2 linked regions of the Homo sapiens genome follow. Changing the gene in region 2 together with the main gene of any one other region gives a genetic interaction. Each region holds a gene or a part of one and is shown on either strand. Other genes may lie near its edges.

The links. Genes that interact genetically often act in the same process or in processes that back each other up.
Region 1: changes in MCM2 (region 2) and ACTL6A together harm fitness less than expected from each alone (positive genetic interaction), as found in Homo sapiens cells (one large-scale study listed by BioGRID).

What each region holds. Positions count from the first base shown.
Region 1 is NC_000003.12:179,583,346-179,586,996, reverse strand, and holds part of ACTL6A (actin-like protein 6A), read right to left. Parts: intron 3,645-3,651; coding exon 3,549-3,644; intron 452-3,548; coding exon 365-451; intron 1-364.
Region 2 is NC_000003.12:127,618,878-127,622,528, reverse strand, and holds the end of MCM2 (DNA replication licensing factor MCM2), read right to left. Parts: intron 3,503-3,651; coding exon 3,251-3,502; intron 1,832-3,250; coding exon 1,649-1,831; intron 1,457-1,648; coding exon 1,301-1,456; intron 867-1,300; coding exon 756-866; 3' UTR 93-755; downstream 1-92. UniProt on the Homo sapiens protein: Acts as a component of the MCM2-7 complex (MCM complex) which is the replicative helicase essential for 'once per cell cycle' DNA replication initiation and elongation in eukaryotic cells.

The sequences.
Region 1 (3,651 bases), about 52 Mb from region 2:
AGATCTCACTGCAGACTGGGGAATGACCAGAACTTGAGAAGCAATGTTTTCATTTTAAATGCACTCCAGACAAGCCCTGACCAGTGCCAATGGGGGTATTATTAGAAAAGGCATGCATACATTAACATATTTCCACCTCTGTTTGAGAGGGGACATTGAAATTAGGCTGACAAATGTCCACTAATTAGGCAGAGGCATTTTGTTACATCAGAACACATAAAACTGGTTATTCCATTAGGTCTTCCACTCATTTGACAGTTATAAAATGCACAGACAAATGAAGCACTGGAATTATTTTTTGTATTTTTACTAAATTTAGTATAATTCAGTAAGAATATTTTTGCAAAGTAGCTCATCTACTAACCAAAGAGGCTAGAATGGAGCCGCCAATCCATGAGCTAAACCTCCGTTCCACTGTTGTATTATTTGCAATCAATTTCAACCGCATACTCTGAAATAGAAGAATATGCATTAGTACAATCAAATCTTGTGACTCAACTTAGAAAATTCTTTTTTTTTTTTTTTTTTTCAAATAGAGACAGGGTCTTCCTCGCCATATTGTCCAGGCTGGTCTTCACATTTGCACTCAAGCAATCGGCCCATCTCAGCCTCCCAAAGTGCTGGGATTACATGCATGAGCCACTTGCACCCAGCCAGGAAATTCAATTTTGACAGACTTCATAATGGCTCCCTGTGGTTCAAACACTGATTAAAATACGGTAATTTTGAAATAGCCAAGATAACAAGCATAGGTTAGACTAATGTACAGACTTTTAAAAGTACTTTGATTATGGCTTTTAACATGCGATTATATGATGAGAAAACATACAAACTTTAAAAAGCTGCATACTGAAGTATAGCATTCACAATTTCTATCCTAAAATAGCAAATCCACACCTAACACTATAAATCTGGTGCTGTGCTAAGTCTTTATTATTTCATTTCATCCAACACCAACCTAATTATCATCCCAATCTGTCTCCCTTTCTGTAGTCCTCCCCAACCTTCTAACTGCTTCCTTTCTAGGCTTTCATGCTATCCTAATCCCTCCTTAGTTCACCCCAACCCTTCTAAATAAAAACACAACCATCAGATATCAGGTTAGTTTTTTATTCATACTATTTCCTTCCAAATTAGTGCTTCTGTTCTGACTCTCATTTTCTCTTGATAACACAATTTTATTGCACAGTACTATCCCCTATATCTCACTTCCTATATGAAGAGGTTTTTTTCTTTCTCTTACCAAGGAATCTGCCTCTGGGGACAGTTCTCAAGTTGTTGACATCTTCCTATTATTCTATAAATGAACATATTTTTGGGGCTTTTCAAAGTGAAATAAGTATGTGTGCAGCAAGGGTGGGTAGAGTATGGGATATGGGTGGGTAGAAGGTACTGGGGATAGGGTAAACATGGGTTTTTGTAGGTAAGAAAGATTGGTAACTATTAAATAGAATTTTTTTCCTGTTCTTTCAGAGATTGTTATCACCTCCTAAAGGACAAGGATAGTTTCTAACTGGCCTTGACCACAGCTTGGGCCATGCTTATCTGTATTCATTATTCAGGGACTTTCTATGAAATCTAATCATTAGTATTATAGACCGGTGCAGTGGCTCACGCCTATAATCCCAGCACTTTGGGAGGCCGAGGCGGGTGGATCACCTGAGGTCGGGAGTTTGAGATCAGCCTGACCAGCACGGAGAAACTGCATCTCTACTAAAAATAAAAAATTAGCCGGGTGTGGTGGAACATGCCTGTAATCCCAGCTACTTGGGAAGCTGAGGTAGGAGAATCACTTGAACCCAGGAGGCGGAGGTTACAGTGAGCTGATATCGTGCCACTGCACTCCAGCCTAGGGGACAAGAGCAAGACTCCATCTCAAGTAAATAAATAAATAAATAAATCTCCAATCAATCAATCAATCTAATGATTAGTATTATAATTCAGGTATGCTCTAGATCTCCAAGAATTTAGAAAATACAAGGCAGATGTCAACTGTGTGCCTATATATTTAGATATCACTTTTAATAATAGAAATGTGGCACACGTAAAACATTATTTTATATGGGAAGCTAAAAGACTATTAAATATACAGATTTATAGATATTGTTAGGGCATATGTAACCACTAATAAGGTTTTTTAAATGTAATCTTCAGTGCAGAACACCTTACAAAAAAAGCACTTGAAGTTTTGTTGTTGTTGTTTTTTTTTCCTGAGCCAGAGTCTTGCTTTGTCACCCAGACTGGAATGCAGTGGCATGATCTCGGCTTACTGCAACCTCCGCCTCCTGGGTTCAAGCGATTCTGCTGTCTCAGCCTCCCAAGTAGCTGGGATTACAGGCACGTGCCACCGTGTCCGGCTAATTTTTGTTATTTTTTTTTTTTTTTGAGATGGAGTCTTGCTCTGTTGGAATGCAGTGGTGTGATCTCAGTTCACTGCAACCTCCACCTCCCGGGTTCAAGCAATTCTCCTGCCTCAGCCTCCCGAGTAGCTGGAATTAAGAGGCTCCCGCCACCAGGCCCAGCTAATTTTTGTATTCTTAGTAGAGATGGGGTTTCACCATGTTGGCCAGGCTGGTCTCCCTGACCTCATAATCCATCTGCCTCGGCCTCCCAAAGTGCTGGGATTATAGGCGTGAGCCACCACGCCCAGCTGATAGAAATTTTAAAGTTAAAAGATTATAACTGTCATTCTGTTACCGAAGTACTATATAAATTACCTTCTCAAACCGAGTTTTTCTATTCTTTTAAAAGTTATTATAATATACCCACTGATCTTTTTAAAACAAACATGAGCTCATCAGTCCACTGCTAGATTTTATCCTGTGAAGAAGGAGGTATTTTCCCCTAGAGATTCAGCATAGCTCCACTGACACCTTGAGGCTTCTAGCCTCAAGAACTATAAGACAACAAATTTCTGTTGTTTGAAGCCACTAACATGTACTTTGTTACGGCAGCTCTAGGAAACTAATCCATCTTTCTAGCCATATTGCTTTCCCCACTTACGTAAAGACTAGAAGCCAACTACTTTGAATTACTGGAACATACCTGTCTTCTCTTAGTATTTTTGTAAATGGTTTTATTCCCTCCATCTAGATATCCTTTCATAAATTAGCAATGAGTTGAACTATTCATTCAAACTATAGCTTCTTCAGGAGGCTATCCTCTGATACTCCTAGAGAGTTAAGTAGTGGCTTCTTGGTGTTCCCAACAGCACCTCGTTCATGACATACTGAATTGTTGAGCATGTTACAGTCATCATTTTCTGCATGTCTAACCATCCTAGTAGACTGAGCCCTTGGTGTGCAGGGACTAGTGCCTAGCAGACTATACATATTTAAATATTAATAAATGAGATTCAAATAATTTAAGAGAAACTAATAGATGTCAACTAGGAAAACGATTAAAGGATATTAACTTTAGTGATACTATACCAGGCACACACAAAATATCATGTATCTATTGAAAAATGGACGCTTATCTACAAAATTACACCATCAGTGAGGAAATATATGACTGAAGAATACCATTAAAGAACAAACAGAACTTACTGGAGGAGTTTTCTGAGACAGCTCTCTATTCAACCTGTCAGTAAAACTCTGTATTAGTGTGTTTCCTCCTGCCACTATTACACTGCCATAGAGACCCTAGGAT
Region 2 (3,651 bases):
CTACAGAACTCTGAACGGAGAAGGTGGAAAGGGCCTTCAGCGGAAGTCCAGGTTACTTACTAAAGCGGAATGGAAGCCAACAGATACCAGCGTTTATATTTTATTCAACTTTATTAAAAATTAAAACTACAGAAACCAAACCGAATGCACAAATAAGAGAGTGGGGAAACAGACAGGGAGCAATGGCAGCTGATAACTGTGGCGAGTGGATAATCCGCATGACTCACATCCCACCCCTGCGACTGAGGAGCCCAGAACGCTGCGCTGGCACTGTCGTGCCCTCTTCCACCACAGGGGCACAGAAACCTGCAGGAGACTGAAAACGATTACAAACATCTTCAACCAGCTCTCTGGCCAAAGGCAGCAAAAGCAGCCTGAATACGCAACTCACGCCAAGAGGGCAGCAGCTCTCCTGACATCCATGTAAGAAGGCTAACACCTAAACCACACGCAGGCATCCTGAACTCAGCAGCTCTGATCCAAGGTACTGAGTGGAGACAAAGCACTCGGAGGTGGCAAGATGTTCAGCAACCAAGTAAGACACACTGGCAAGGCATCCCACCCAAAGGTGAGAAGCACAAAGCAGGCTTGGAGAAACAAACAGTCATGCCAGGTGCAGCCAGACATCCTGCTATAAGCCCTGACCCTAGTACCCCGAGTTCATCAAGTGCTCTGGTTTTGTGTCCATAAAGCACAGAGGGCACTGACCACCCCAAACCAGAATCCCAAGGAATCCTTATGGATGGCATAGGGCCTCAGAACTGCTGCAGGATCATTTTCCTTTTCAGGTCGTGGCTGAACTTGTTCATCCTGAAGAGCTCACTGTCATAAAATGCAGAGAGGTTGTGGATGTTGATCTGACGAGCCTGCAAGGAGGAAGTGTCCAGTGAGCCATCAGTGGTGTGAGAACAGGCTGTTTCCAGAGCGCCCCAGTTACAGTGCACTTTCAGACACCATCACCTCCATTTATGGGAGGAAAATATCCAGGGGTGGAGAGGCCGATTAAGGGGCTTCAAATCTCTGCTGTACAAGCTGTGCGTGTAAACTGAGACAAGTTACTTGGCTGCCCTGTATCTGTCTCCACCTCTGCACAACAGGAAGGCAGTAACAGGACTCACCTCACTCCCCTGCTGTCAGACTACAGGCACAGAACTGGACTCAACAGACTGTAAGCATTCAATAAATGGCTGTCAACCAAGGCCCACCCACTTCATGACCCATTATGATGGAGCCCCCATCAGGAGACTGGCAGCTCCCAAGTCAGCATACCCCAACCCTCACCTCCCTTCCGGGCCCATACCTTATCCACCAAGTCCTTCTCAGGGACCTCAATAGTGTCCTGCTGGGCCCCAAAGCGGTTGCGCTGATATGTCACCTGCTCTGCCACTAACTGCTTCAGTATGAAGAGCAACAGCTCATTGTTGTCACGCCGGAATGAAAGGTAGCGGGCAAAAGTCTGCAGGAAAAAAGCCTCAGTCAAACACCCGCTCCCACTACGCCTGCCACACTCCCTTTACCCTACGTGCCAGCACCCAGGTCAGACAGGCTGCCGCTCCTGGGTGCACGTCCAGGCCAGAGCCCTGGATACCCACGTGTGGCCTCCTTCACTGAGCTTGCCCATCAGGCCCCTACCTCGGAGCACACCCACCTTGCGCATGCTGCGCATGACGCTGAACTTCTGTGTGTCTATGAAGCTCTCCAGCATCACGCGGATGGCCATGTTGACGTCGTCTTCGATCACATAGTCCCGCAGATGGATGCGCGCGTGGGCCTCCGCCATGCGGATCATGGACTCGATGTGCCGCACCGTAATGGGGATGCTGCCTGTCGCCTGGAGAGAAGCACAGTGTCAGGTCTTTCACGGGCAGGAAAGAGAAGCAAGGAAAATAAAGCAGCGGCACTCTTAGCACCCAGAGCCAAGAAGACCCATCTGACAGTGCCCCAGCAGAAATGCAGAATGCTTGACTGCGCTGCCCAGTGAATGCACACTTCCTATCCCTCCTGGAAATCAGAGGATGCCAGTGGATGCTGCATGCTTACGGCCTGTCACCATCACACCTGCACAGTTCTGCTCCCACCAGCTGACTTCTGTGCATCTCAGAGGCTGTTGTATTTGTGGCCAGCTGTATTGGTTATTGTCACACACTAAATATTGAATAATCCTGTACAATGTAAGTGCAAAAAAAGGTCGTTGTTTGTAGGAAAACTAAATTGAATGATCTGAAAAAACTTGGTAAAGTTAAAAGGCAGAAATTTGAAAAGCTGCTGTGTTGACTGGGTGTGGCTGAGGCAGCAATCTACAAGGACTCGGCATTCCCATGGCTTGCAAGCTGCTTTAAGTTTCCATTCCACTATGAATGAGCCAAAGACCTTGTGTTCATTAGAGTGAAATTTACACAAAGTCAATATGGAACTTAATAAGCACATCAACAATTAAGGCCTTGGCCCTACACTGAGACAAATGAATGCACATTTAAATTTCATCTAAAACAAAATGGTTAAGGTATATATTAATACCTATCATTTAAAAAAATATTTTTTTTTTGAAACAGGGTTTCACTGTGTCACCAAGGCTAGAGTGCAGTGGTGCCATCATAGCTCACTGTAGCCTCGAACTCCTGGGCTCAAGTAGATCTTCCTTCCTTAGCTTCCTGAGTAGCTGGGACTACAGGCACAAACCACCAGGCCCAGCTAAGTTTCAAAACATTTTTTGTAGAGAAAGGGCCTCACTATGTTGCCCAGCCTGGTCTTGAACTCACCTCAAGCAATCTTCCTGCCTTGGCCTCCCAAAGTGCTGGGATTACAGGCATGAATCACTGTACCCAACTTTCATTTTTTGTTTTTGTTTTTGAGATGGAGTCTCACTCTGTCACCCAGGCTGGAGTGCAGTGGTGCGATCTCAGCTCACTGCACCCTCCGCCTCCCGGGTTCAAGCGATTCTCCTGCCTCAGCCTCCTGAGAAGCTGGGATTACAGGCATGTGCCACCACACCCGGCTAATTTTTGGGTTTCACCATGTTGGTCAGGCTGGTCTCAAACTCCTGACATCGTGATCCTCCTGCCTCGGCCTCCCAAAGTACTGGGATTACAGGCGTGAGCCACTGTGCCTGGCACCTACATTTTTTTTTTAATGCCTCCCTGCTCTGGCACCTTTTGGCCTGACTGACCACCACCCCCGCTGCATTGGTCAGAAGGCTCACACTGCACTTCCTTCTCTGCATAGCACCTCCCGGCTCTGCCTGGGCTCTCACCATAGATTCTTTCCTCAGGTCACTGTACATCTTGGCCACCTTGTCCTGGTCCATCTGGTTGAGCTTCGGGTGGACCCTCTCCTTGGCGTAGATGATGTACTTCTTCAGGACCTCCTGGGGCAGGGGCTCCACGCCATACGTGTTGGGCATGGCGGGCTCAGCAGCGCTGCCATTGGCCAGCCCCTCCTCCTCCTTGTTGCTGGGGTGGTGTCTGACGTGGCTGCCCACCACGAAGCGGGCCAGCATCTCGTCCTAAGATAAGCCATGAGAGGGTGGGTCTGATTGTGGGTGTGCGTGGCTTTGGGGAGGTCAGTGGCTGGAGAAGGGCTGAGTGTGCCCTACAAGGGTGACACTCTTTCAACAAGACTGACTACACTGACCATGTGCCAGGCAGTTCTGGG